Linked DNA regions of Homo sapiens: region 2 is linked to region 1. The links come from fine-mapping of genetic effects on gene expression. A gene starts in region 1. The other region holds a variant in brackets. All regions are shown on one strand. Distances are between the middles of the regions.

What was found. PIP is the estimated chance that this variant, and not a neighbour inherited with it, causes the effect.
Region 2: its variant is the best candidate, but not a certain one, in a credible set for the expression of SKAP1 in whole blood (INTERVAL, PIP 0.84).

The regions. Positions count from the first base shown.
Region 1 is chr17:48,428,904-48,431,403 of GRCh38, forward strand. SKAP1 (src kinase associated phosphoprotein 1) reads right to left here and starts at 1,311. Exons shown (of 13, transcript NM_003726.4): 1 at 1,172-1,311. The coding sequence starts at 1,217. RefSeq lists a silencer at 1,225-1,484.
Region 2 is chr17:48,233,612-48,236,111 of GRCh38, forward strand. The region is part of intron 4 of SKAP1 (src kinase associated phosphoprotein 1); the gene reads right to left. Among named protein-coding and RNA genes, the nearest start is that of SKAP1-AS2, 59 kb to the right of the region's middle. The variant T/C (reference allele first, on the strand shown) is at 1,155.

The DNA of each region.
Region 1 (2,500 bases):
AACCTCACCTCAAAAGAAATATCTAGCTGACAGCTTTTACATAGAAGCAATCCAGAATGGAAATAGTGCTACAGACAGAGACCAAAAGGACTTGCCAAATATTTGATTAGGAGGCATTTATACCGAGATAACAAGGTAATGGAGATATAAAACCAATTAAATTGAGAGAAACTGAAAAAAAATACTGCTTGCCAAAAATATGACCTGCCCAAAGCAGGCCGTCTGTTAAATATGTGTCAACTATGTCAACTTAGATGCCAAAAGGCTTAATTCTGAATAGTTTCCTCCTGGGAGCCTTATGCGACTGCAGATTCCAGGCCTCTGTCCTCCCTGGAAGGTTAGTTACAGGAAAGCAAGTAAAAGTGACTTCCACCACGAAACCCAGCAGATGAAACTGCCCGTTAGCAACGTCTCTTTGTGACATCTCTTTGGAGTGTTGGCAGTGTGTGTTGAGTGTTGACGGGGATGGCCGGAACTCTTTAAACCACCGCTTAGACACTGTAGTTGGAAGGTGAACACACCACAATGGGAGTTGGAAGGTGAACACACCACAATGGGGGCACTTCTAGAAAAGGAGGAAATCCCATACTGAGAATGAGCCTGCCTTGGGGTGGGTGAGACCCCTAGACGTCTGCAGGGTGATAAAGGGAGGGCTGGGGTTTTCGCACTGACAAAAACTCACGTCAACCACCTGGCCTTGGCCCATGGGGATCCCATGAGCCCCTCGCAGCCCCCTGGAGAGCCTCGGGGACCTCTAAGCAGGAAGGTTTGGGGTCTTCTGTGAGAGGTGAGGAAGTCGTGGCTGGGGAAGGAGGGGGACGGGAAACCCTACAGATGTAGGGCAGTCCTTTGGAGAAAGGGACAGGTCGGAGACCAGGCAAGGTGGCATGGGGGACCAAGAACCTGGCCTGAGGACTTTAGAAGCCGGGGAGGTGAAGTGGAGGCGTGGAGGTGCCTCAAGGCAAAAGAAGATGTGGGACTCCAGGGAGTGAAAGGGGCCCTGAGGTGAGAGGATGGAAAGCTGGCTCTAGGGAGTTGAGGGCTCTAGAAGCCTTAAGGTTCTAGAAGGAGGTGAGTGACGAAGCCGTAAAGAAAGCCTGGCCGTGGGAGGCCTGGTGTCCCCTTTCGGCCTTCGGCTCAGCACTGGAGGGGGCCTGCGCCAGGGCGTTACCTTCCAGGAGCCAACGGATCTCCTCAGGGAGGGCGGCGGCCTGCATTTGGCTGGGCGGGAGAGAGGCGGGACGGGGCGCGGGCCCTGGTCGGGAGGCGGACGGGCTGGAAGGCGACCCGGCTGCACCGCGAGGCACCTGTACCTCAGCCGCGGTCGCCGCCCGCCCAGCCCGGCCGCGGGGCGGGGCCGTGGGTCCCCGGGCGCGTCAGGAAGTGGCGCGGGCGGCAGGCGGGGACCGGAACGGGGCGCGGGGCGTGGGTGCACGTGGCGCTCACGCCGGAGCCCCACGGTAGAAGGATTGGGGGTGCCGGAAGCACCGCACCGTGCGAGGCCAAAGGTGCGCCCCTCCAGCACCCACCAAAACAAAAGACTTCACAAGGCTCAAAGGACCCACGGCTTTGGACACTCCATCCTAAGCACCGAACAGTTGACCTCACGGTGGCAGATTTGAAAGACCACGGGGTGCCTGAAGTAGGGTGCAGGGAGGCAGAATCCAAGGAAGAGATCCCCGTCAAGCATAGCACCCCTCAATTGCCGGTCCAGTTCACATCTCCATCCCCAGAAAAGAGGGCAAAACTTCGCTCTTTGGGAAGCCACAATGTTGAAAGGAAATGATTAATTCCCAATAAGCAATATAAGGACACCAACATTTGGGAGAATCGCGGCAGCGTGGCAGCAAGGGACACAGGAAACCAAACTGTGCTGTTCTCCCTCAGGATGGAAAGGCCCTGAGGAAAGGAAGGGGTAACACAGGGAGAAAGCTGAGGGAGAGGAGAACAGAGCCCTTTCCCTCCAGGAGCTGCGGAAGGGAGGAAAGTGAAGGACAAAATCACACGGTCTCATTCAAGGGACAGTTGGTGTCAGTGTCCTGGTTGTGACATGGTACTGTAATAGTGCCAGATGTTACCCTTGGGGGAAACTGGGTAAAGGTAGACAGAGTTCCTCTATTATTTCTGAAACTCTCTGTGAATCTATAATTCTCAAAATAAAGAGGTTTTTTAAGTACAATAGGTCAACTGCCATGAAAAAAGTATAAAGTGCTATGGTTGATAAAAGAAGGGAGCTGAATACCAGAAAAGGAGGGAAGAGGCCAGGCATTGTGGCTCACACCTGTAATCACAGCACTTTGGGAGGCTGAAGCAGGAGGATCACTTGAGCCCAGGAATCTGAGGTTACAGCCAACTATGATCACCCCAGTGTACCCCAGCCTGGGCAACAGAGCAAGACCCTGTCTCTTAAAAAAGAAAGAAAATAAAAAGAAGTGCCAGTGTGCATGTGAGTGTTTAAAGGTGCATGTGGTGTTTGAGATGGGCTCTGAAAAACACACCA
Region 2 (2,500 bases), 200 kb before region 1:
TGGGAGGTCGAGGTGGGTGGATCACGAGGTCAGGAGTTCGAGACCAGCCTGGCCAACATGGTGAAACCCCATCTGTACTAAAAACATACAAAAAATTAGCCGGGCATAGTGGCTCGCACCTGTAATCCCAACTACTAGGGAGGCTGAGGCAGAAGAATTGCTTGAACCCAGGAGGCAGAGGTTGCAATGGGCTGAGATTGTGCCATTGTACTCCAGCCTGGGTGACAGAGCAAGACTGTGTCTTGAGAAAAAAAAAATGTTTACTTAGAGTGGCAGAAATACAAGCCAACAGCTTCTCTCTCTGCATCCCCCATGCTTATATGACAAGAGTTCCAAGTTGTTTGAGTGTTTGGTTTTTTTGGCAGTGAAAGGTTTAAGGGCATTTATCTCTATAACTAGCAATTTAATAAGTACATGACTTCTTACTCAAGTGCATTTAGATAATTTTCTAAGCTTTCATAACAGCTTTATTTATTTATGCTTTAATGCCTTTCCTCTTAAGAGCTCAAGATGCTGGTTATTTAACATTTTATATTCAGATATGAGGATTAAAAAAAGGCACTGGGTGCCATGCTGCTGTCTCCAATGATAGCTCCACTAAAAATAACACAATTAACTTGATGTCAGCCCTCAGCTTGTTCTTAAATATAGGTTTCTTAAAAATATCCAGACTACTTTAATTAGAGTCACAGAATATTTTAATTATTCCTAAAAGACTGAGTATACTCCATTGACTACAATAAAGACATGAGATAGAAAGCAGTTCTCTAGGAACTTATATATGCTAATGATTATGTCACATTAATGGGAATATGGGCAGTTGTTTAGGATGAAATTGGTACAGGGCTAGACATGGACACCTGTGAAGAAAACTGAGGCCATGTGTCATCTGGCATGAGGTAAATGGCATCTGAGCCCCAGATATCATCAGAAATGCAAAATTCTGAAATTCAAGGTAATATGTTGTTCAGTTCAACTTAATTTTAATCAGATGCAATCCAACCCTGGAAACCTTTATTCAGCATCTGTTATATGTCAGGTAATGTTCTGAGATCTGTGGGGGTACCAAAATAAATAAGAAATACATTCTATTTTCAAGGCACTTTTTTTTTTCTGGTAGGAAAGACAGTCAAATAAATAACCACAGAATGTGA[T/C]GAGTAAAAAGCAAAATTACAAATGTATGCATTAATACAAAATGAATAAAGGAGATTTATGGTGGCATGATATGGCAGAACAAGGATGAGTTTTGAAATCATGCAGACCCTGGTTTAAATTCTGGATATTTCAATTGCTTGCCATAAAGCTTTTAGCCTTGGTTTTATGTTTTGAGAATGGAGATCTCAATGTATTTTAAAATGCTTTGTGAAGATAAAGCAAGGCAAGATTTGTAAAAGTATCGAACTAGTTCCTAGCATGAGAATCCTAATAGGAGCTCAAGAAATGTTACGTTTTTCCTTGTGTGTATATGTGAAGGCTTCACAGAGGAGACAAAGACTGAGCTGGGTTTTGAAGGATGAATAGGAGTTCTCTAAGACTAATGGAACAATATTTGGAAAAAGAGAGATGTGGAAAAGTGGGGAATATCTGGTATTGTTGATATATAAAAGGGGAATGAGCAGCAAAGGGACCTGAAGATAGGGAGGTGGCAGAGATCTACAAAGAAAGTGAGAAATGAACATAAATGTGTATACTTAGGGAACACCACAGAATGTGTGACCATGGAGCATTCAGCATCACCATGGTTGAAGGTCCATAAAGTAACAAATTGTCCTAACTTGCTAGACAACTATCAAGTTTGAACAGCCTCAAAAGTTAGCTTTCACTTTTTTTTTTTTAGTGAGTTCATCAAAGTTGCTCACAGACTCCATTTAGTAGAAAACTGCAGAACAAGATCAACTACAACAAAACTCTGAATGCAGACACAGTCATTTCATTCTGTGCTAAGGTAACTGATAAGTGGACAATAGAAGAATATCCAAGATGCTGCTGGAAATTGTGTTAAAGTAGGACAAGCATGAGAGAGGTTTAATGCCATGAAATCTTTCAGTAGTGCAGCAAAGCTGAGGATGGCAAAGAATGTTGGTGTTCACCTCCCAACTCCAACTCACAGTGCTGAGAACTTAGCAAGTGTATGATGCTATTCCACTCCCAGAATAACATCACCCAGAGGCAAGTCTTGCTTGTACTTGGACCAGTAATCATAGCTCTTTCTCCTGCTTTACTCATCAGGAGCCTATAGTCAAATATACCAGAGAATACTAGAAGATCTGTCTTTCCTACAAGTCTGGTATGTAGCTCAAGGGACCACACTTGCTTTTCTTTGAGAAATGATCCATTGATTTAAGAGGAAAGCCAGCCCAGGATTTTGGGTGGAGTGGCAGACACAATTTGAAGGATAAAATTCATGAGGAACCATCTGAAAAGATGTTGGGCCTTTTAAAAATAGTTACACTGGATGTGATGATTGTAACATTTCAAAGTCAAGGGAGAAAAATACATT